2 separate regions of the Homo sapiens genome follow, and region 2 is linked to region 1. Evidence: fine-mapped expression QTL. A gene starts in region 1. The other region holds a variant in brackets. All regions are shown on one strand. Distances are from middle to middle.

The links.
Region 2: its variant is fine-mapped to the expression of SHD in whole blood (TOPMed, PIP above 0.99).

Annotation. Positions count from the first base shown.
Region 1 is chr19:4,275,651-4,283,650 of GRCh38, forward strand. It overlaps SHD (Src homology 2 domain containing transforming protein D), which reads left to right and starts at 3,616. Exons shown (of 6, transcript NM_020209.4): 1 at 3,616-4,710; 2 at 7,220-7,325; 3 at 7,404-7,592. The coding sequence starts at 4,414.
Region 2 is chr19:4,234,279-4,249,538 of GRCh38, forward strand. It overlaps EBI3 (Epstein-Barr virus induced 3), which reads left to right. Exons shown (of 5, transcript NM_005755.3): 4 at 389-546; 5 at 2,658-3,250. The coding sequence ends at 2,810. YJU2 (YJU2 splicing factor homolog) reads left to right here and starts at 12,802. Exons shown (of 8, transcript NM_018074.6): 1 at 12,802-12,892; 2 at 14,950-15,050. The coding sequence starts at 12,869. RefSeq lists a silencer at 7,820-8,020 and enhancers at 8,199-8,248, 8,399-8,498, 11,862-12,633, 12,392-12,531, 12,872-12,961. The variant G/A (reference allele first, on the strand shown) is at 4,581.

The DNA of each region.
Region 1 (8,000 bases):
CAGACACAGAAGGCCACAAAGTGTGTGATCCCATTTCTATGAAATGTCCAGGACAGGCCCATCCACAGAGGCAGGAAGTGGATTTGTGTTTACCAGGAGCTGGGGATTTGGAGAGATGGGGAGTGACAGCTAATTGGGTATGAGGTTTCTTTTGGAGGTGACGAAAATGTTCAGGAATTAGGGGTGATGGTCGCACAACCTTGTGGACACAGGAGAAACCACTGAATTGTACACTCTAAATGGGTGAACTGTAGGATATGTAAGTTATGTTTTTTGTTTTTTTGAGATGGAGTCTCGCTCTGTTGCCCAGGCTGGAGTGCAGTGGCTCAATCTTGGCTCACTGCAACCTCTGCCTCCCGAGTTCAGGTGATTCTCCTGCCTCAGCCTCCCGAGTAGCTGGGATTACAGGTGCCCGCCACCACGCCTGGCTAATTTTTGTATTTTTAGTAGAGACGGGGTTTTACCATGTTGGCCAGGCTGGTCTCGAGCTCCTGACCTCAGGTCATCTGCCCACCTCAGCCTCCCAAAGTGCTGGGATTATAGGTGTGAGTCACTGCACCCAGCCAATGTGAATTGTATCTTTAAAAAAAAAAAAAGCAACAAGGCCGTGTATGGCAGCTCACTCCTGTAATCTCAGCACTTTGGGGGCGCCAAGGTGGGCGGATCACGAGGTCAGGAGTTTGAGAGCACCCTGGCCAACATGGTGGAACACCATCTCTACTAAAAATATAAAAATTAGCTGGGTGTGGTGGCGGGCGTCTGTAATCCCAGTTACTTGGGAGGCTGCGGCAGGAGAATCGCTTGAACCTGGGAGGCGGAGCTTGCGGTGAGCCGAAATTGTGCCACTGCACTTTAGCCTGGGCGACAGAGCAAGACTCGGCCTCAAAAAAAAAAAGCGGCCGGACTCGGTGGCTCACGCCTGTAATCCCAGCACTTTGGGAGGCTGAGGCGGGAGGATCACAAGGTCAGGAGATCGAGACCATCCTGGCTAACAGTGAAACCCCATCTCTACTAAAAATACAAAAAAGTAGCCGGGCATGGTGGCGGGTGCCTGTAGTCCCAGCTACTCGGGAGGCTGAGGCAGGAGAATGGTGTGAACCCGGGAGGCGGAGCTTGCAGTGAGCCGAGATCGCACCACTGCACTCCAGGCCCGGGCAACAAAGTGAGACTCTGCGTAAGAAAAAAAAAAAAGCAAAAAAAAAGCCGGGTTTTGTGGTATGCACCTGTGGTCCTAGCTACCAGGAGGCTGAGATGGGAGGATCATTTGAGCCCAGGATGTTGAATGTGAGGCTGCAGTGAGCTGTGATTGCATCTCCAGCCTGGGCAACAGAGCGAGAGACCCTGTCTCAAAAAAAAAAAAAAAAGGGAGAAAAGAAAAATCCAAATCTCACAAGGTTACGTGGCTGATTCAAGGTCACAGGGGAAGGTGACTGGACCCCTAGCCTGGATCTCTTTCTCTTCTACCTAATCCTCCTGCCTCTCCCTGCCAGCCTCTCCCCACTCCCCTCCTTGGGGTAGGGTCGGGGTGCAGCCCCAGGAGAAGCCAGCTCCAAAGCACAGGAAAGTCAAATGCCGTTTGATTCCGGCCCCGGGGCCTCTAATTGCTATTCCTGACACAGATTGTAATTAGAAGGCCCCTTTCAAATATTTATACCTCAGACATCTAGTTTTATCCGGCAGGGAGACGACTTGGATTTGATGAGATCTGTCAACAGCTCATCCCCGTGGCCCGGAATTGCCTTGCGGCTGACAGAAAGCAGGACAATTACCCGCTGTGCTCCCTGGCCGCCCCCAGGGACGCAGCCTTGTCGCTGATCTGAAAGGGTGGGGGGAAGCGGGGGTGGCCATGCACTTCAGGAGGGAGGAAGGAGTTCAACAGGTCTGTGTTGGGGGACACAGCCAGTGCAGGGAAGGGGAGGAACAGAAGGGTCTAGACGCCTGCATCCTTCAGGGGCTTTGCCTTGTTGGCTCCAGGCCTCAGTTTTCCCATCTGGATAATGGAGCTCATCGTGGAGAGGAGTTGCAGAACCGATTCCATGAAGAGCATTTTGGGAGGCCGAGGCCGGCAGATCACCTGAGGTCAGGAGTTCCAGACCAGCCTGGCCAATGTGGTGAAACCCCATCTCTACTAAAAATATAAAATTATATAAAAATTAGCTGGGCGTGGTGGCAGTAATCCCAGCTACTCAGGAGGCTGAGGCAGGAGAATTGGTTGGACCTGGGAGGTGGAGGTTTCAGTGAGCTGAGATCGCAACACGGCACTCCAGCCTGGAGGACAGAGCAAGGCTCCGTCTCAAAAAAATAAAAAGAGAGACTCCAGTGCCACCCTAGGCCAGGCCCCACGGCGATGTGCAGGCAGAATCAGCTGTGGAGTGGCTCTGAACAAGTCCCTCCCATCTCTGTGCCTCGGTTTCCCCATCCATAAAATGAGGAAGCCAGGTGATAGCTCGGTCCCTCCTGGAATCCTTCCTAGAGCTGTCTGGGATTTCCTGTTAGAAACCACATCTTTCAAATAAGGAAAACCAAGACTCAGGGAGTGACAGACCCTGCCCTCAGCCCCGCCGGGCTGCCAGGAGGCCCCAGTCATAGCAGTGTTGGTTCTGACTTCTGTCTTGTCCTCCAACTGTGCTCTCCAAGCTATGACCTGTGCCTGACCAGGGGGCTGGCCACAAGAGGAGAGAATCTGGGGTCCCATCCTTCCTGACCACCCCTCTCTCACTCCCCTCATTAGGAGGAACTGGGCAAGCCCCCTTATGGGGAAAGAAAAAAAACGGTTCTGCACTGGAAAATTGGCCAGTGGCTCCCTTTTCCTCTCCCACCCCCCAAACCTCTCAGTGCCCTCACCCTCAGACAACGACAGCTGACAACAGGCAGCCAGTTCAGGCCAGACCCCTCTCACTTCTGCCCCTCTTCCCGCCACCGCTCCCCCCCACCCCGCCCCCAGAAGCCACAAAAGGACAGATGCAGAGGACAGGCGCCAGGCACAGATACCATCTCCCTTCCCCAAGCCAGCTGCCCCCAACCCTCCCCCTGCCCGCAATTAGTCCTCTGGGGCGGGAGCGGGGCACAGAGCAGAGCCCTCTTGGGGGAGGGGAAGCCCGATCCGCACCCACCCTTCCTTTGCCCCCCTCTTCCTTCTGCTGCTCCAATATCAATTTCAGCCAGTGACCTCTCCACCAATTTGCACATCCCCACTCTCCCGGTCCGTTTCACCGCCAGACATCGGTTCCATTTCGACCCTCACTGGCGGTCATTCCCACCCCCTCTGCTGGTCAATTTCACCCCTTTTGGCGGTCAAGTGCAGTCCCCCATTTCCCGGGCAATTTCCCCCTCCCCTCCTTCTCCCTCTCCCCTCCCCTCCCCAGCAGTGTCACTCCCAGCTGCTCCCCACCTCCCGCGCTCCGCGCTCGCTGCGGCCAGTCTCGGGCGTCCCGGTCAGTGTCCAGCTGCCGCGGCCTCGGCCCCGGCGACTCCCGCCCCCAGCCCCCCTTCCCTCCGCGGGCAGCGGCTCCCTCCCTCCCCAGAACAGCTGAAGGTCTCAGTCACCTCCGAGGGGAGCGCAGGGGGAGGGGAGGGGCGGGGGACGCGGCGGAGGGGAGGTGGGGGAGCCTTGACGCTGCTGCCCGGGACGCGGCCCGGGGCTGGTGGGAACAGGGGCGTCCTCCTGCGCGCCCCCCTCCCCAGCGTCCCACCTCCCGGCGGCGGCGGGGAAAGTCTCTCCGAAAGCGTGAAGGGGGATTGGAGGAGGTTTTTATTTCCCTTTGTGCGGGTGGCTGGGGCCGGATCGAGGCGGCGGGGGCCGCGGGACTGGGGGCTCCCCGCTGAGCCGAGAGGAGCGCGACAAAGGATGCGTCCCGCCGGGGTCACAGTCTCCGCGGCCCAACTTTGCGCGCGGCGCCCGCGCCCCTGGGGAGCCCGCCCGCTGCGCTGAGAACCCAGGCGTCCGGGCTGGGAGAGGGGCCGGGAGCGTCCGCAGGTGGCGCTGGCCCGGATCTCCCGACCCCAGGAAGGGATCCCGGAGCTTCCTGGAGGCGGCGGGCGGCCGTGTCGCTCCAGGGAACCGCGCTGCCCGCGGAAACTCCGCGCGCCTCCGCGGATGCCCCTCGCCCTAGCCCCCAGCGCGCGGGGTTCGGGGCCCTGCGAGGTCCCCCCTTCCCCCGCGGTGCTTCCCAAGCTGGGCTAAGGCGGGCTTCTCTTCCTCCCTCCTCTGTCGCCTCCTTTTCCTCCCCCTCGTTCACCTTTTCCTTCCCTCTATCCATCCAGAGCCCCGCCAAAGGGCGCACCTGATCTTTCTCATCCTTCCCTGCTCTTCCCTTCCTCTCCACCTCCTCCTCCTCCTTGGGGAAAGGGGCCCGGAGAAGGGCATGTGGGGGCCCCTCTGACAGTGGCCCGATTGGGGTGACAGGCGCCCAAATGGCCAAGTGGCTACGGGACTACCTGAGCTTTGGGGGTCGGAGGCCCCCTCCGCAGCCGCCCACCCCGGACTACACCGAGAGCGACATCCTGAGGGCCTACCGCGCGCAGAAGAACCTGGACTTCGAGGACCCCTATGAGGACGCGGAGAGCCGCTTGGAGCCGGACCCCGCGGGCCCTGGGGACTCCAAGAACCCCGGAGATGCCAAGTATGGTTCTCCCAAGCACCGGCTCATCAAGGTGGAGGCTGCGGATATGGCCAGAGCCAAGGCCCTTCTGGGCGGCCCCGGGGAGGAGGTGCGTGGCTGGGTGGCCTGGGGAGACTGGGTGGAGGGGAGGCTCAGGATGGGCTCTCTGGATCGTGGAGAGCTTATTTTATGTGTGATCACAGGAGGGGACTGGGGCACCAGACAGACCCTTCCCAGTCCTCCAGACCTCCACCTGCTTGGGGAAGTCTGTTCTTTTTATGTATTTATTTATTTTGAGACAGTCTCCCCCTGTCACCCAGGCTGGAGTGCAGTGGTGGGATCTCGGCTCATTGCAACCTCCACCTCCTGGGGTTCAAGCGATTCTCCTGCCTCAGCCTCTCCAGTAGCTGAGATTACAGGTGTGTGCCACCACACCCGGCTAATTTTTGTATTTTCAGTAGAGACTGGTTTCACCATGTTAGCCAGGCTGGACTCAAACTCCTGACCTCAGGTGATCCTCCCGCCTCTGCCTCCCGAAGTGCTGGGATTACAGGTGTGAGTCACTGCGCCCGGTGGATATCTGTCCCTTTTCAATGCATAATGCTGGTTGTCCTTCTGCCTCTCTGACCACCCTGCTTGGTCTCCGGGTCCTCCTCCTCCTCCATGGTCATCCCCTGCAGTCCCCCAGCCCCCTCCCCTCAGCACCCCTTCCTCTTGGAACCTGGTGGGATCTTCCTAAAATAGATCTGAGTGAGTTGCTCCCCTGCTGGGCACCTAAATATCCTCCCGGTGATGCTGCCCTTCCTACCACTATGTTCCCGTTTTACAGAAGCGAAACTGAGGCTCGCAGAACGGTAGTGACTTGGCTAAGGTCTCACGGGGTTCTAGCTTACTAGGATTTGAACCCAGGCCACCGGGTGCAGTAGCTCATGCCTGTAATTCCAGCACTTTGGGAGGTCGAGGTGGGAGGATTGCTTGAGCCCAGGAGTTCGAGACCAGCCCGGGCTAACAGAGTGAGACCTTGTCTCTACAAAAAAAAAATCAAAACATTAGCTAGTTGTGGTGGTGCACACCATAGTCCCAGCTACTCAGGAGGCTGAGGCAGGAGGATCACTTGAGCCTAGAAGGTCAAAGCTGCAGTGAGTCATGATTGCGCCACTGCACTCCAACCTGGGTGACAGAGCAACACCCTGTCTCAAAAAAAAAAAAAAAAAAAAAAAAAAAGGCTGGGTGTGGTGGTTCACACCTGTAATCCCAGCACTTTGGGAGGCCAAGGCAGGTGGATCACCTGAGGTCAGGAGTTCCAGACCAGCCTGGCCAACACAGTGAAACCCCATCTCTACCAAAAATGCAAAAATTAACCAGGCGATGTGGCGTGCGCCTATAATCCCAGCTACTCCTGAGGCTGAGGCAGGAGAATTGCTTGAACCCAGGAGGTGGAGGTTGCAGTGAGCCAACATCGCGCCACTGCACTCCAGCCTGGGTGACAAGAGCGAGACTCTGTCTCAATAAATAAATAAATAAGAAGTAAGACGTTGGTAAGAAGAGCCAGGGACTCGAGGAAACCAGTCAGCCGGGATCAGACTCGGCCTCTTACTTACCAGCTGTGTGTCCCTAAGCAAAACACTTACTGTCTCTGTGCCTTGGCTTCCTTGTCTGGAAAAGGGGAATGGTGTACTTATTACATGTTGGTATTACAAATCAACACAGGTAAATCCTTGACAATAGTGCACGGAGAAGCACTGAAGTGGGCGAAGGAGGGAGGCAGGTGTCTGTGCTGGGGAAATGGGATCAAGACAGAGGGAGACGTGGGAAGCCAGCCGCTGTCTGCGAGCACTTTTGGGTAACAGACTCCCTCTCCAACCCCCAAAAAGAACTCTTGGAGAGGCCAGGCACTGTGGCTCATGCCTGTAATCCCAGCACTTTGAGAGGCTGAAGCGGGCGGATCATCTGAGGTCAGGAGTTGAAGACCAGCCTGGCCAACATGGTGAAACCCTGTCTCTACTAAAAATGCAAAAATTAGCCAGGTTTGGTGGCCGGCACCAGTAATTCCAGCTACTCCAGAGACTGAGGCAGGAGAATTGCTTGATCCCGGGAGTCGGAGGTTGCAGTGAGCCGAGATCACACCACTGCACTGTAGCCTGGGCAACGGAGCAAGACTCCATCTCAAAATAAATAAATAAATAAAACTCAGCTGGGCGCGGTTGCTCACGCCTGTAATCCCAGCACGTTGGGAGCCCGAGGCGGGCAGATCACGAGGTCAGGAGATCGAGACCATCCCGGCTAACACGGTGAAACCCCATCTCTACAAAAAGTTAGCCAGGCATGGTGGCGGGCGCCTGTAGTCCCAGCTACTCGGGAGGCTGAGGCAGGAGAATGACGTGAACCCAGGAGGCAGAGCTTGCAGTGAGCCCAGATCCCGCCACTGCACTCCAGCCTGGGTGACAGAGCGAGACTCCATCTCAAAAAATAAAAATAAAAATAAATAAATAAATAATAAAAAAATAAAAACTCTTGGAGAGGTGTCAGATGGCCCTGTGGGCAGGCAAGAGGTGCAGCGTCAATTAGCAGGGAAGCCCCTCTGAGTCCTTGTCTTCTCCCCTTCCTTCTCTCCGCAGCTGGAAGCCGACACTGAGTATTTAGACCCCTTTGATGCTCAGCCTCATCCTGCACCCCCGGATGATGGGTACATGGAGCCCTACGATGCCCAATGGGTCATGAGTGGTGAGTAGGCACGGCTTGGGGGAAGGTGACAGGGTCCCAGATGGGAGCAGGAGCTGAACAGTGTCCCTGGCCTCCTAGAACTTCCCGGCAGAGGGGTGCAGCTCTATGACACCCCTTATGAGGAACAGGACCCAGAGACAGCAGATGGACCCCCTTCTGGGCAGAAGCCTCGGCAGAGCCGGATGCCCCAGGAAGATGAACGGCCAGCAGATGAGTATGATCAGCCCTGGGAGTGGAAGAAAGACCACATCTCCAGGGCGTTTGCAGGTGCTTCTCAGACCCACACTCTGACATCTGAATGCCCCATCCCTGCATTTCCTCATCTGGTCATGTCTCCTGTTTCAGTTTACAAAGTAGAGTCCAATTACTTGTCACTTTTGTAGTTTGTTAATTCTCACTAGAGTGTGAATGACTGATAGTCCTAAATTCTTTCTTCCAAGACAACCTGCATCTTCCTTGGAAACGCAAACACTTTTTAGAGTGGAATGGAACCTACTTATCCTGCTCAGTGTGGTGTGGGGAGAGGAATATGGCTTGCTTTTAGAATAGGATGTGGGGGTGGCAGGGGCAGCATTTCTTTATTTTATTTTATTTTATTTTATTTTTCTTTCGTTTTTCTTCCAGGCGGAGTCTCACTCTGTCGCCCAGGCTGGAGTGCAGTGGCGTGATCTCGGC
Region 2 (15,260 bases), 38 kb before region 1:
TGTGTGACCTATGGATTTGTTTATTTCCTGTCTTCCCCCTGATGGATTGTGAGTTCCATGAGGACAGGGGTAGGTCAGTTAAGGTCACTGTTTTGTCCCCTCTGTGGCAGCCCCAGGCACACAGTTTCTCAATAAATATTTGTTGGTTGAGCCAGGCATGGTGGCTCACAACTACTCGGGAGGCTGAGGCAGGAGAATCGCCTGAACCTGGGAGGCAGAGGTTGTAGTGAGCTGAGATCACGCCGCTGTACTCCAGCCTGGGTGACAGAGTGAGACTCCGTTTCAAAACAAACAAAATATATACATAATATGTTGGTTGAATGAATGAGTGAATGAATGAATGACTGGACTTACTGTCCCCTGACCCTGCTTCCTGCTTGTCCGTCAGTCAAGCCCGACCCTCCAGAAGGCGTGCGCCTAAGCCCCCTCGCTGAGCGCCAGCTACAGGTGCAGTGGGAGCCTCCCGGGTCCTGGCCCTTCCCAGAGATCTTCTCACTGAAGTACTGGATCCGTTACAAGCGTCAGGGAGCTGCGCGCTTCCACCGGGTGAGGAGGATGAGGGGGAGGCTGGAAAGGGTGGTGCCTGGCAGAGGGAATGGTTTTTACCAAGACTAGCAGGTGTGCTGGGCTCTTGCACATAGCTTGCGATTCCGGGTGCATTGAATAAGAGCAGTCCAGCAATCTGATTCCTAGGCCTCTACCGAAAAGGATGGAAAGCAGGGACTTGCACAAGCTGTCGCACACCCGTTTTTGTTGTTATTGTTTTGAGACAGAGTCTCGCTCTGTCGCCCAGGCAGTGACACAATCTCGGCTCACTGCAAACTCCGCCTCCCAGGTTCAAGCGATGCTCCTGCCTCAGCCTCTGGAGTAGCTGGGATTACGGGCACGTGCCACTATGCCCGGCTAATTTTTGTATTTTTAGTAGAGATGGGGTTTCATCATGTTGGCCAGGCTGGTCTCGAACTTCTGATCTCAGGTGATCTGCCTGCCTCGGACTCCCAAAGTGCTGGGATTACAGGCGTGAGCCACCGAATTGTTCACTTTATTGATTGATTGATTGAAACAAGGTCTAGCTCTGTCACCCAGGCTGGAGTGCAGTGGCGCGATCTTGGCTCGCTGAAACCTCCGCCTCCCAGGTTCAAGTGATTCTCCTGCCTCAGCCTCCTGAATAGCTGGGACTACAGGCGCCCACCACGCCCGGCTAATTTCTGTATTTTCAGTAGAGATGGGATTTTGCCATGTTGCCCAGGCTGGTCTCAAACTACGGAGCTTAGGTGATCCACCTGCCTGGGCCTCCCAAAGTGTTGGGACTACAGGTGTGAGGACTTCATCTGGCCAGAATTAGCCATTTTAAAGTGAACAATTCTGGCTGGGCAGGGTGGCTCACACCTGTAATCCCAGCACTTTGAGAGGCCAAGTTGGGAGGATTGCTTGAGTCCAGGAGTTGGAGACCAGCCTGGGTAACATAGTGAGACTCCCATCTCTACAAAAAATTTAAACATTAGTTGGGTGTGGTGACACACACCTGTACCCCCAGTTACAAGAGGCTGAGGTGGGAGGATCACTTGGGCCTGGAAGATTGAGGCTGCAGTGAGCCGTGTTGGCACCACTGCCTTCCAGCCTGGGTAACAGAGAGAGACTCTGTCTCCCAACTTAAATAAATTAAATAAAATAAAAAGCACGGTTAGGCTAGGTGCAGTGGCTCATGCCTGAAATCCCAGCACTTTAGGAGGCCAAGGCAGGCAGATCACTTGAGGTCAGGTGAAACCCCATCTCTATTAAAAATACAAAAATTGGCCTGGCGCGGTGGCTCATGCCTGTAATCCCAGCACTTTGGGAGGCTGAGGCAGGCAGATCACGAGGTCAGGAATTCGAGAACAGCCTGACCAACATGGTGAAATCACAGCTCTACTAAAAATACAAAAATTAGCCGGGTGTGGTGGCGGGCGCCTGTAATCCCAGCTACTCAGGAGGCTGAGGCAGGAGAATGGCTTGAACCCGGGAGGTGGAGGTTGCAGTGAGCTGAGATCATGCCACTGCACTCCAGCCTGGGTGACAGAGTGAGACTCCGTCTCAAAAACAAACAAACAAAAATTAGCCAGGCATGGTGGCGGGCGCCTGTAATCCCAGCTATCTGGGAGGCTGACGTGAGAGGATGGTTTGAGCCTGGAGGCAGAGGTTGCAGTAAGCCAAGATTGCCCCACTGCACTCCAGCCTGGGCAACAGAGTAAGACTGTCTCAAAAAAAAAAAAAAAAAAAAAAAAAGCATGGTTAATATAGTGGGACCAGGGGTAAAGGGAGGTATGGGGTCCTATCCCAGAGGTCCTGGTTTAGTCCCAGGGAGGAGAAAGAAGAGGATTATAGGGATCAGGGATGTCCTGATGAACAAAGACCCTCCTGGGTGAGACATCCACAGGGGCTAGTGTGGTCCAGGAAGGATTCGTAAGAGAGGTGGCTCTGGGGGCCACACAGACAGAGGCCGGGATTGGGAGGAGCCCATGATGCTATTTGGGGTGGGGCCGCACAGCTGGGGCCAGAGTCCTGGACTGGAGCCTGCAGGGGGCAGGGAGGACTGCACGCTCCGTTGTGTGGTTCTGTGCACAGTGGCCCCTCTCCATCTTCTGGTTCTAGTGACCTGACGCTCTCTCTTCTCTCAGGTGGGGCCCATTGAAGCCACGTCCTTCATCCTCAGGGCTGTGCGGCCCCGAGCCAGGTACTACGTCCAAGTGGCGGCTCAGGACCTCACAGACTACGGGGAACTGAGTGACTGGAGTCTCCCCGCCACTGCCACAATGAGCCTGGGCAAGTAGCAAGGGCTTCCCGCTGCCTCCAGACAGCACCTGGGTCCTCGCCACCCTAAGCCCCGGGACACCTGTTGGAGGGCGGATGGGATCTGCCTAGCCTGGGCTGGAGTCCTTGCTTTGCTGCTGCTGAGCTGCCGGGCAACCTCAGATGACCGACTTTTCCCTTTGAGCCTCAGTTTCTCTAGCTGAGAAATGGAGATGTACTACTCTCTCCTTTACCTTTACCTTTACCACAGTGCAGGGCTGACTGAACTGTCACTGTGAGATATTTTTTATTGTTTAATTAGAAAAGAATTGTTGTTGGGCTGGGCGCAGTGGATCGCACCTGTAATCCCAGTCACTGGGAAGCCGACGTGGGAGGGTAGCTTGAGGCCAGGAGCTCGAAACCAGTCCGGGCCACACAGCAAGACCCCATCTCTAAAAAATTAATATAAATATAAAATAAATTAGCCAGGTGTGATGTTGCGCGCCCACAGTCCCAACTACTTGGGAGGCTGAGGTGGGAGGATCACTTGAGTCCAGGAGGTTAAGGCTGCAGTGAGCTGTCGTCACACCACTGCCTTCATGCCTGGGCAACAGAGCAAGACCCTGGTTTTTTTGTTTGTTTGTTTGTTTGTTTTAATCATAGTTGAGGCCGGGTGCGGTGGCTCGCGCCTGTAATCCCGACGCCGAGGCGGGCAGATCACGAGGTCAGGAGTTCGAGACCAGCCTGACCAACATGGTGAAACCCGGTCTCTACTAAAAATACAGAAATTAGCTGGGCATGGTGGCCTGAGCCCGTAACCCCAGCTACTCAGGAGGCTAAGGCAGGAGAATCGCTTGAACCTGGGAGGCGGAGGTTGCAGTGAGCTGAGATTGCACCACTGCACTCCAGCCTGGGCAACAGAGCAAGACTCCGTCTCAAAACAAAAACAAAAAAAATAATAGTTGAAATGAAGACTCCAGCTGGGTATGGTGGCTCACGCCTGTAATCTCAGCACTTTGGGAGGCCAAGGCAGGTGGATCACTTGAGGTCAGGAGTTCAAGACCAGCCTGGCCAACATGGTGAAACCCTGTCTCGACTGAAAATACAAAAATTAGCCAGGCGTGGTGGTGGGTGCCTATAATTCCAGCTACTCGGGAGGCTGAGGCAGGAGAATTGCTTGAACCCGGGAGGCAGAGGTTGCAGTGAACTGAGATCGCGCCATCGCACTCCAGCCTGGGCGATGGGGTGACTAAGACTCCGTCTGAAAAAAATAAGGAAATGAAGACTCCTCTTTTCACTTAGAGGAGATCCAGCGAGGACTTAGCCCTAAACCAAAGGACACAGAAACCACAAATCCCCACTCCCATAGTGTCAGGGCTGGACCAGGGGACGTCATGGGCCTGGGGATGCCAGGGTGGGGTGGCAGGGATTCCGCCTGGAGTGGGACAGTAGAATCCATTCAGGGGCAGGTGCGGTGGCTCACGTCTGTAATCCCAGCACTTTGAGAGGCTGAGGCGGGTGGATCACAAGGTCAGGAGTTCAAGACCAGCCTGGCTAAGATGGTGAAACCCCATCTCTACTAAAAATAATAATACAAAAAATTAGCCAGGCGTGGGTATCCGCCTGTAGTCCCAGCTACTCGGGAGGCTGAGGCAGAAGAATTGCTTGAACCCAGGAGGTGGAGGTTGCAGTGAGCCAAGATCGCGCCACTGCATTCCAGCCTGGGTGACAGAGCGAGACTCGATCTCGGAAAAAAAAAAAAAAAAAAGAATCCATTAAGAATCCATTCAGATTAGCAGTTAGGTTGGTTC[G/A]CCCAGATGTCAGCCTCATTGAGGATAGACACCAATAAGGTATGAGTGGCTCTGGGGAGATTTAACTGAACAGTGGGCAAGGAAGGCAGCCAGGCCCTGAAGGAGAGAGAAACAGCCTTGGGCTTGTCTGTGGGTTCCACCTGGGTCTCCAGTCAAAAGTCACCTCCTCCGAGAAGCCTTCCCTGACTACCCCATCTGTGGCAGGTAGAGTAACACTCCCCAATCCCGCAAAGACATCCATGTCCCAATCTCCAGAGCTCATGAGTATTTTGCCTGATGCAGCCAAAGGAACTTTATAGGAGTGATTACATTAATAATCTCAAAGGTCTTTAAAGATGAAAGATCTTTCATCAAATTAATGAAAATGGGCCGGGCGCAGTGGCTCACGCCTGTAATCCCAACACTTTGTGAGGCCAAGGCAGGAGAATTGCTTGAGGCCAAGAGCTCCAGACCAACCTGGGCAACATAGTGAGACCCCCATCTCTAAAAAAATAAAATAGGCCAGGCATGGTGGCTCATGCCTGTAATTCCAGCACTTTGAGAGGCCGAGGTGGGTGGATCACGAGGTGGGGAGTTCGAGACCAGCCTGACCAATATGGTGAAACCCTGTCTCCACTAAAAAATGCAAAAGTTAGCCAGGCGTTGTGGCACACACCTGTAGCTCCAGCTACTCGGGAGGCTGAGGCAGAAGAATCACTTGAACCCGGGAGGCGGAGGTTGCAGTGAGCCGAGATCGTACCACTGCACTTCAGCCTGGGCAACAGAGCGAGACTGTCTCAAAAAAAAAAATAGTAATAAAATAAAATAAAATAAAAATAAAATAATAAAATAAGTTAGCCAGGTGTGATGTCGCGTGCCCATAGTCCCAGCTAATCAGGAGACTGAGGTGGGAGGATCTCTTGAGCCCAGGAGATCAAGGCTGCAGTGAGCTATGATCTCACCACTGTACTCCAGCCTGGGCAACAGAGCAAGACCCTGTCTCAAAAAAAAAAAAATTAGCCGGGCTCAGTGGCTCACGCCTGTAATCCCAGTACTTTGGGAGGCCCAGGTGGGCAGATCACAAGGTCAGGAGTTCGAGACCAGCCTGGCCAATATGGTGAAACCCTGTCTCTACTAAAATACAAAAAAATATTAGCCAGACATGGTGGCATATGCCTGTAGTCCTAGCTAATCGGGAGGCTGAGGCAGGGGAATCGCTTGAACCTGGGAGGGGGAGGTTGCAGTGAGCCGAGATCGTACCACTGCACCCCAGCCTGGCAACAGAGCGAGACTCCGTCTCAAAAAAAAAAAAAATTAAAAATTAGCTGGGCTTGGTGGCTCACAGCTATAGTTCCAGCTACTTGGGAGGCCAAAGTGGCAGAATCTCTTGAGTCCAGGAGGAAGAGGCTACAGTGAGCTGTGATCACATCTCTGCACTCCAGCCTGGGTAACAGAGAAAGACTCCATTTCAAAAAAAAAAAAAAAAAAAAAGCCAGGCACGGTGGCTCACGCCTGTAATCCAGCACTTTGGGAGGCTGAGGCGGGCAGATCACGAGGTCAGGAGATCAAGACCATCCTGGTGAACACGGTGAAACCCTGTCTCTACTAAAAATACAATTAAAAAAATTAGCTGGGCATGGAGGCAGGCGCCTGTAGTGCCCGCTACTTGGGAGGCTGAGGCAGGAGAATGGCGTGAACCTGGGAGGCGGAGCTTGCAGTGAGCCTTAGATCGTGCCACTGCACTCCAGCCTGGGAGACAGTGAGACTCCTTCTCAAAAAAAAAAAAAGAAAAAACAAGTATTTCTAAAAAATTTAATAGATGCCAGGCACAGTGGCTTACGCTTGTAATCCCAGCACTTTGTGAGGCTGAGGCGGCTGAATTGCTTGAGCTCAGGAGTTTGAGACCAGCCTGGGCAACATAGTGAGACCCCATCTCTACAAAAAATACAAAAGTTAGGCAGGCATGGTGGTACATGCCTGTGGTCCCAGCTACTCTGGAGGCTGAGGCAGGAGGATTGCCTGAGCCCAGGAGGTTGAGGCTTCAATAAGCTATGATTGTGCCACTGCACTCCAGCCTGGGTGAGACAGTGAGACCCCGTCTCAAAAAAAAAAGATTAATAGGGATGGGGTCTCACCATGTTCCTCAGACTAGATTCCAACTCCTAGTCTCAAGCAATCCTCTCACCTTGGCCTCCCAAAGTACTGGAATTACAGGGCTGATGAGCCACCATGCTCAGTCCATTTTTTATTTCTGACCTGTAAAACTATAATAAATGTGTGTCGGGCAGAGGCAGTGGCTCATGTCTATAATCCCAACATTTTGGGAGGCTAAGGTGGGAGGATCACTTGACCCCAGGAGTACTAGACCAGCCATGGCAACATATCAAGACCCTGTCTCTCAAAAAAAAATTTAAAATTTAGCTGGGCATGGTGGCATGCACTTTTAGTCCCAGCCACTTGGGAGGCTGAGGTGGGAGGATCTCTGAGTCTGGGAGCTTGAGGCTGCAGTGACTATGATCATAGAACCGCACTCCACCCTAGGTGAAAAAGCAAGACGTGTCTCAGAAAAAAATATAAATAAATAAAACAAATGCATGTTGTTTTCAGACACTGAGTTGGTGGTCAATTGTTACAACAGCCATAGGCCCCTCAAGCATCACCTACAATTGACCCTTTCCATCACTATCCATGGTCAAAAGATAAAGCTGCAACCTTGGCCAGGTGCAGAGGCTCATGCCTGTAATCCCAGCACTTTGAGAAGCTGAGGCAGGTGAATCACTTGAGCTCAGGAGTTCCAGACCAGCCTGGCCAACATGGTGAAACCCCGTCTCTACTAAAAATACAAAAATTAGCTGGGCGTGGCACACGCCTGTGGCCCCAGTGACTTGGGAGGCTGAGGCAGGAGAGTCACTTGAACTCGGGAGGTGGAGGCTGTGGTGAGCTGAGATCGCGTCACTGCACTCTAGCCTGAGCAACACAGTAAGACTGCATCTCAAAACAAAACAAAACAAAAATGCTGCAACCTATATAGTTCAGAGATCTGAATTGGGTTTTCTTTGCAATTCTGGAATCAGGCAACACCTCATTTCATCAAATCGAATTAGCTACTAAAACACCAGGTGTTTGGTCTAGGTCTTGCTGCCCTCTGCGCAGAAAGCCAATCACCGAGGCAACAAGGATTGCCAGGGAGGAATGCTTTATCCTGCCGCTGCAGTCAATGAGAAGGGGTGGTAAAGTCTCATATGTCTCCCTGACCAACTAAAATTGGGGAGTTTATATAGCTGGGGAATGGGAGAAAACAAATTCAGGGAGGGTGTTAAGGAAGTAATCTTGATGGATGATGGGGTCTGGCCTCTCATTGTCTGGATGTGATGATCTGATGAGTTTCAGTTCCTTGCCTGATGGTCAGTTTCCTGAGGAAGGAACTGAGATGAGACAAATGTAAGTTTCAAGTTTTAAGACTAGGGAGGATCCATTTCTGTGTTTATTCAAATAATCATAAGTATTCGTTTTATGGAACAATTGGACCAGTTTCAGAATGTTTCCATGAGCTGAGCAGACAACATTAGGGGTTCTTTTTCTTTCTTTTTTAAAGTCTGTTAAACCTTCCATTTTTTTTTTTTCCCGAGACAGAGTCTCTCTCTGTCACCCAGGCTGGGGGGCAGTGGCGTGGTCTTGGCTGACTGTAACCTCCGCCTCCTGGATTCAAATGATTCTCTTGCCTCTGCCTCCCAAGTAGCTGGGACTACAGGTGCCCATCATCACACCCGGCTAATTTTTGTATTTTTAGTAGAGATGGGGTTTCCCCATGTTGGCCAGGCTGGTCTTGAACTCCTGACCTCATGATCAACCCGCCTCAGCCTCCCAAAGTGCTGGGATTACAGGAATGAGGCACCATGCCCGGCCAAACCTTCCACTTTTGCAAAGCAGGTTTTATTTATTTATTTTGAGACGGAGTTTCACTCTTGTTGCCCAGGCTGGAGTGCAGTGGTGATCTCAGCTCACTGAAAAAGAGGTTGGTTTTATAGACAGAAAAAGGCTGAGTAAAGCAGAAATAGAAAACAAAAAGTGGATTGGTCTTTTCAAAGTTACTTTTCTTGTCAAGTTTAGAGCAAAGGAGACTATCGTGCTGGCTAAAACAGGCCTGTTCAGGGATTTTTTTTTTTTTTTTTTTTTGAGACAGTCTCGCTCTGTCACCCAGGCTGGAGTGTAGTGGCACAATCTTGGCTCACTGCAGCCTCCACCTCCCGGGTTCAAGCGATTCTCCTGCCTCAGCCTCCCAAGTAGCTGGGACTACAGGCGTGTGCCACCCTGCCCAGCTAATCTTTGTATTTTTAGTAGAGACAGGGTTTCACCATGTTGGCCAGGATGGTCTCAATCTCCTGACCTCGTTATCCACCCGCCTCCCAAAGTGCAGGGATTACAGGCATGAGCCACAGTGCCTGGCCTTTTTTTTTTTTTTTTTGAGACAGAATCTGGTTCTGTTGCCTAGGCTGGAGTGCAGTGGCATGATCTGGGCTCACTGCAATCTCCGCCTCCCAGGTTCAAGCAATTCTCGTGAGTCAGCCTCCCAAGTAGCTGGGATTACAGGCACCCACCACCGCACCCCGCTAATTTTTTGTATTTTAGTGGAAACGGGGTTTCGCCATGTTGGCCAGGCTGGTCTTGAACTCCCGAGCTCAGGTGATCTGCCTGCCTCTGTTCATGGATTTGACTATTCCCTCTCTTTCTCTCTCTCCCTCTCTCTCTCTCTCTCCCCACTTCCTTCCAGTTCTCGATTTCTTGGAAAACCAGAAAAACAACTTAGTTTCAGCTTGGTGTAAAACTTCCGCATGAGGGACTTCATTTTGGTTTAGTCTTTTGGGCCTAGTGCAGGAGCTCAGTCCAAACCCATGGCTTCCTGTAAACTTTATTTAACACCATTCCTTGTCCCATATTATTGTCTTCCTGGTGCCAGGAAAAGGGGTCCCTAGCTGGGTGTGGTGGCTCACACCTGTAATCCCAGCACTTTGGGAGGCTGAGGTGGGTGGATCACCTCTTGAACACCTCAGGAGTTCAAGACCAGCCTGACCAACATGGAGAAACCCCGTCTCTACTAAAAATACAAAATTAGCCGGACGTGGTGGCACATGCTTTTAATCCCAGCTACTTGGGAGGCTGAGGTAGGAGAATAGCTTGAACCTGGGAGACGGAGGTTGCGGTGAGCCGAGATTGTACCATTGCACTCCAGCCCGGGCAACAAGAGCAAAACTCCTCAAAAAAAAAAAAAAAAAAAAAAAAAAAGGAAGGCTACTCAGTTACAAAGTAGGGCGTCCTCAGAAAACAAGAGGAGGAACGCCTTGTCTTTGTTTTAAGGTTTTTATTTTTATTTTATTTATTGATTTATTTTTGAGATGGAGTCTTGCTCTGTCACCCAGGTACAATGGCACGATCTTGGCACGATCTTGGCTCACTGCAACCTCCACCTGCCAGGTTCAAGCGATTCTCCTGCTTCAGTCTCCTGAGTAGTTGGGATTCAGGCATGTACCACTGCGCCCAGCTAATTTTTATATTTTTAGTAGAGACGAGGTTTTACCGTGTTGGCCAGGCTGGCCTTGAACTCCTGAGCTCAAGTGATCCTCCCACCTCGGCCTCCCAAAGTGTTGGGATTACAGGTGTGAGCCACCATGTACAACCGGTTTTTTCTTATATAGGGGTCTTATCTGTGTGAAAGCTATGTCCACGTGTAGGTGGGCTGACCGCGTGACAAAACGTAGTACTTTGTCGACTTAAAGAAAGTTATCCTGGCTGGGTGCAGTGGCTCACACCTGTAATTGTAACACTTTGGTAGGCCGAGGCCGGCAGATCACTTCAGCCCAGGATTTCCAGACCAGCTTGGGCAACATGGCGAAACCCTGTCTCTACAAAAACTGCCAAATATTAGCCAGGTGTGGTGGTACCTATAGTTCCAGCTAACTCGGAAGGCTGAGGTGGGGGATCGCCTGAGCCGGGAAGTGGAGGCCACAGAGAGCCATGATTGCGTTACTGCACTCCAGCCTAGGTGACAGAGCGAGACCCTGTCTCAAAAAGTATACATACATATCCTTGCCATTTTAGTGCCTAAGTACATTACACCATGACTATAACCATATTTTCTTTTTTTTTTTTTGAGATGGAGTTTCACTCTTGTCACCCAGGCTGGAGTGCAATGGCGCCATATCGACTCACCGCAACCTCTGCCTCCCAGGTTCAAGTGATTCTCCTGCCTCAGCCTCCCAAGCAGCTGGGATTACAGGCATGCACCACCATGCCCGGCTAATTTTGTATTTTTAGTAGAGACAAGATTTCTTCATGTTGGTCTGGTTGGTCTTGAACTCTCGACCTGCACCACCGCACCTGGCTAATTTTGCATTTTTAGTAGAGACGGGGTTTCTCCGTGTTGGTCTGATTGGTCTTGAACTCCTGACCTCAGGTGATTCGCCCACGTCGGCCTCCCAAAGTGCTGGGATTACAGGCGTAAGCCACCATGCCCGGTATCTTTTTCTTTTTTTTCTCTTTTTTTTTTTTTTTGAGATGGAGTCTCACTCTGTCGCCCAGGCCACAGGGCAGCGGCACAATCTCGATCTCAGTTCACTGCAACCTCAGCCTCCTGGGTTCATGCAATTCTCCTGCCTCAGCCTCCCAAGTAGCTGGGATTACAGGTTCCCGCCACCACGCCCGGCTAATTTTTGTATTTTTAGTAGAGATGGGGTTCCACCATGGTGGCCATGGTGACCAGGCTGGTCTCGAACTCCTGACCTCAGGTGATCCACCCTCCTTGGCCTCCCAAAGTGCTGGGATTACAGGCATGAGCCACCGCGCCTGGCGACTATAACGATCTTAAAAGCATACATTGCTATGCAATATCAGGACATCTGGACCTTCCATTGTTGTAGTAGTGTGTCCTCCTAGGCATTTGTAAGACGTTTTCTCAATTGTAAACATCTTATGACCCTGGCTCGTGACTGGCAGCGAATGTGCCTTGTTAATTTTAAGATGGAGTTGATTTTTGGCCAGGTGCAGTGGCTCATGCCTGTAATCCCAGCACTTTGGGAGGCAGAGGCGAGCAGATCACCTGAGGTCAGGAGTTCGAGACCTGCCTGGCCAAAATGGTGAAACCCCATCTCTACTAAAACTACAAAAATTAGGCAGGTGTGGTGGTGCGTGCCTGTAATCCCAGCTACTCGGGAGGTTGAGACAGGAGAATCACTTGAATCCTGAGGTGGAGGTTGCAGTGAGCCAAGATCGCACCACTGGAGGCAGAGGTTGCAGTGAGCCAAGATCGCACCACTGCCCGTCAGCCTGGGCAACAGAGCAAGACTCCTCAAAAGATAAATAAATAAACAAACAATTGCCACAGCAACATCAAGAAGTTACCCTATATGGTCTAAAAAAGGGAGGTATGAATAATCCACCCCTTGTTTAGCATATCATCAATAAATCACCATAAACATGGGCAACCACCAGCCCTTGGGGCTGCTTTGTCTGTGAAGTAGCCATTCTTTTATTCATCTACTTTCTAAATAAACTTGTTTTTGCTTTGCACTGTGGACTCGCCCTGAATTCCTTCTTGCACGAGATCCAAGAACCCTCTCCTGGGGTCTGGATCCGGACCCCTTTCCTGGAACAATCTGACACAGAGGAAACGTCCATGAAAGGTGGGGAGGAGGCTGGGGAAGGAGGCTGGGGAAGGAATGGGATGGGAAGTCCTCGTTAAGGGGAAGGCACAGGTGGGCAATGGAGGGACATTTGGGAGACACTGCGTATGTTTAGGAAGTTGGTTTGGAGCCTGATCTTTAAGTCAATGTCTGTGACTCAAGAGTCGTCCAGGGTCCTCTTAAGTCACCCTATGTGTGGCCCCAACCCCATGTGAGAGTTGCGGGCCCAGGAACGATGTGTGGATTCCCAGAGCCCAGAATACAAGGCAGGCGCATAATACATATTTGCTGAATAAAAGAATGAAGAACAAGAGGTCACGTTACAAAATTTTAACGAGCCGCTGCCCGCTTCTAGGGGGCGCAGCGCACTATACAAAATTCTCCAATTCCACATGGCTCCCGGAATCCTTATTTCGCGCTACTCAGGTTGCAACTCCGGAGGGAAGACGCTGGGACTTCCAGCTTGATAGGCGGGGATTGGAACCAATGAAAGAGGTCTGCTGTGTATGCTGCAGCCAATAATAGCGGCCGAAGGAAGTGACGTTTGCGGAAGTAAGGCTTCCGTCGGAAAAGCTCGATAATTACCCAGCCTAACCATTTCTCAGGTGCTTGCGAGGTGATCAGAAGGCAAAGATGTCGGAGCGAAAAGTATTAAACGTAAGTGTTGGGCGACTGGGGCTTTTCAATCGGAGCAGGACATCCCGGAACTCCGGGAGAGGGAGGAGCTTCCTGAGATCTCTTCTTTGGAACCCTTCTTTCCCAGCGGCCTTCCGCGAGATGGGGCTTCCCAGACTCCTCCCTAGACTCCTCCCCATCGCCTTCCGTCGGGGGGGTGGGCCTTCGCTAAGTCTCCCTTCTGGGCTGGGGTGTAGTTAGTCACCTGCGGGGCGTGGCTTGGGCTTTTACCCAATCACCACCAGATAGGGTTTTTTTTCTGGGGGCGGGGCTTCCTTAAATGCTGGCGGCCGTGTTTTGCCCTCTTCTTGAGGGGCGTGGCTCTGAGAAGCCCCGCCCCACTTGGGGACTGTAACCAATCGTGTACTTTGGGTGGGGTGGGGTGGGGTGGCGCGTGTGTGTGTGTGTGTGTGTGTGTGTGTGTGTGTGTGTGTGTGTGTGTGTGTGTGTGTGTGTGTGTGTGTGTGTGTGTGTGTGTGTGTGTGTGTGTGTGTGTGTGTGTGTGTGTGTTTTGTTTTTTTTACTGGGGTCTGGTCATGCAGATAACCTCTGCCTTACAGTGGCCAAGATTTTACTGGGGTCTGGTCATGCAGATAACCTCTGCCTGACAGTGGCCAAGATTCCAGACTCCCAGAAGAAAAGCAGAGGTTCAGTATAAACTATACTGTTGGCACACTTCTGTTTTTTGGTTTTTTGAGATGGAGTTTTGCGCTTGCTTCCCAGGCTGGAGTGCAGTGGCACGTTCTTGGCTCACTGCAGCTTCTGCCTCCTGGGTTCAAGCGATTCTCCTGCCTCAGCCTCCTGAGTAGCTGGGACTGCAGGCGCCCGCCACCATGCCTGGTTAATTTTTTTTGTATTTTAGTAGAGATGAGATTTCACCATGTTGCCCAGGGTGGTTTTGAACTCTTGATCTCAGGCATTCCACCCACCTCATACTCCCAAAGTGCTGGAATTACAGGCGTGAGCCACCGCGCCCGGCCCCACGCAGGTCTTTCTAGGAGAGCAGTCTCAGGCTTGCTGTAGGAACTCCTGGGAAACAGGAGCCCTGGGATACAAAGGGAGTGTGAGTATGGATTATGACAGATACCTCCACTGCACCACTGGAAAATAAAGCACTTTGTGTTTGGAGCACCTACTGGGTGCCAGACACTGCAAAGAGCACTTTATCCCCCTTGCCTCAAGGAATGCGTGCAAAGACTCTTGGAGACAGAGGACAGTGTGCGCATTTCACAGAGGAGTAAACTGAGCCCTGCAGGTTTCAGCTCCTCAGGATTCAGATCCAGGGAGATGACTCTGTAGGAAACGGATGTAGTATCGTGATTGGGAGGCTGAGCTAACAGAGTCCTGGTTTACCCTCTACAGAATTGCTGGGGAGTTGGGACTCCTCGGGGAACTCGGTCTCCTGCCTGAACAACAGAAGTGCTAAGCAAAGCTTAACCTCTACAAAGGGCAGGGCATGATGGCTCACGTGTGTAATACCAGCTCTTTGGGAGGCCAAGGCAGGTGGATCACCTGAGGTCAGGAGTTCGAGACTAGCCTGGCCAACATGGTGAAACCCCATCTCTACTAAAAATACAAAAATTAGCGGGGAGTGGTGGTGGGCGCCTGTAATCCCAGCTACTGTAGAGGCTGAGGCAGGAGAATCGCTTGAACCCAGGAGGCGGAGGTTGCAGTGAGCCAAGATCGCGCCACTGGACTCCAGCCTGGGCAACAAGAGCAAAACTCCGTCTCAGAACAAAAACAAAAACAAACCCTGGCTTTTTAGAGCTTCCCGTGTAGACAGCATTTCATGTGTATTGTCATGACTGGTATTTAGGAGAATTAAATGCGTCCTGTATAACTCCACTAGGAGAGAGTCAGGAAGCTTGTGCCTGGCCTCCCTCTGACTGTACTGAGTCCTGCGAGTCCTCCCTGCCTGTCGCGGAACCTGGGGTGGGCTTGGGGACCCCCGACACAGCTCCCCAGAGCCCCTTCCCTCTGCCATGTCCTGCCCCTGCTTCTGAAAATAACTCCCCCAACGTTTCCTTCCTCCCCTGCAGAAATACTACCCGCCGGACTTTGACCCATCAAAGATCCCCAAACTCAAGCTCCCCAAAGACCGGCAGTACGTGGTGCGGCTGATGGCCCCCTTCAACATGAGGTGAGCACCCCCTGCGTGACCCCACACACCAGTCATGGCTGAAGGACGCAGTGCCTGGCATCCACAGAGGTGACTCGTCCGGTGTTAAGACCAGATCACTGGTCTTAGACATTGTCCTGGCTCAGACATTGACCATTCCAACCCTCCTTCGCCTCACCACTTGGGATTAAGCTTTGGATCTTTTAGAGCCCTCCAGCCAGTGCCTGCCTT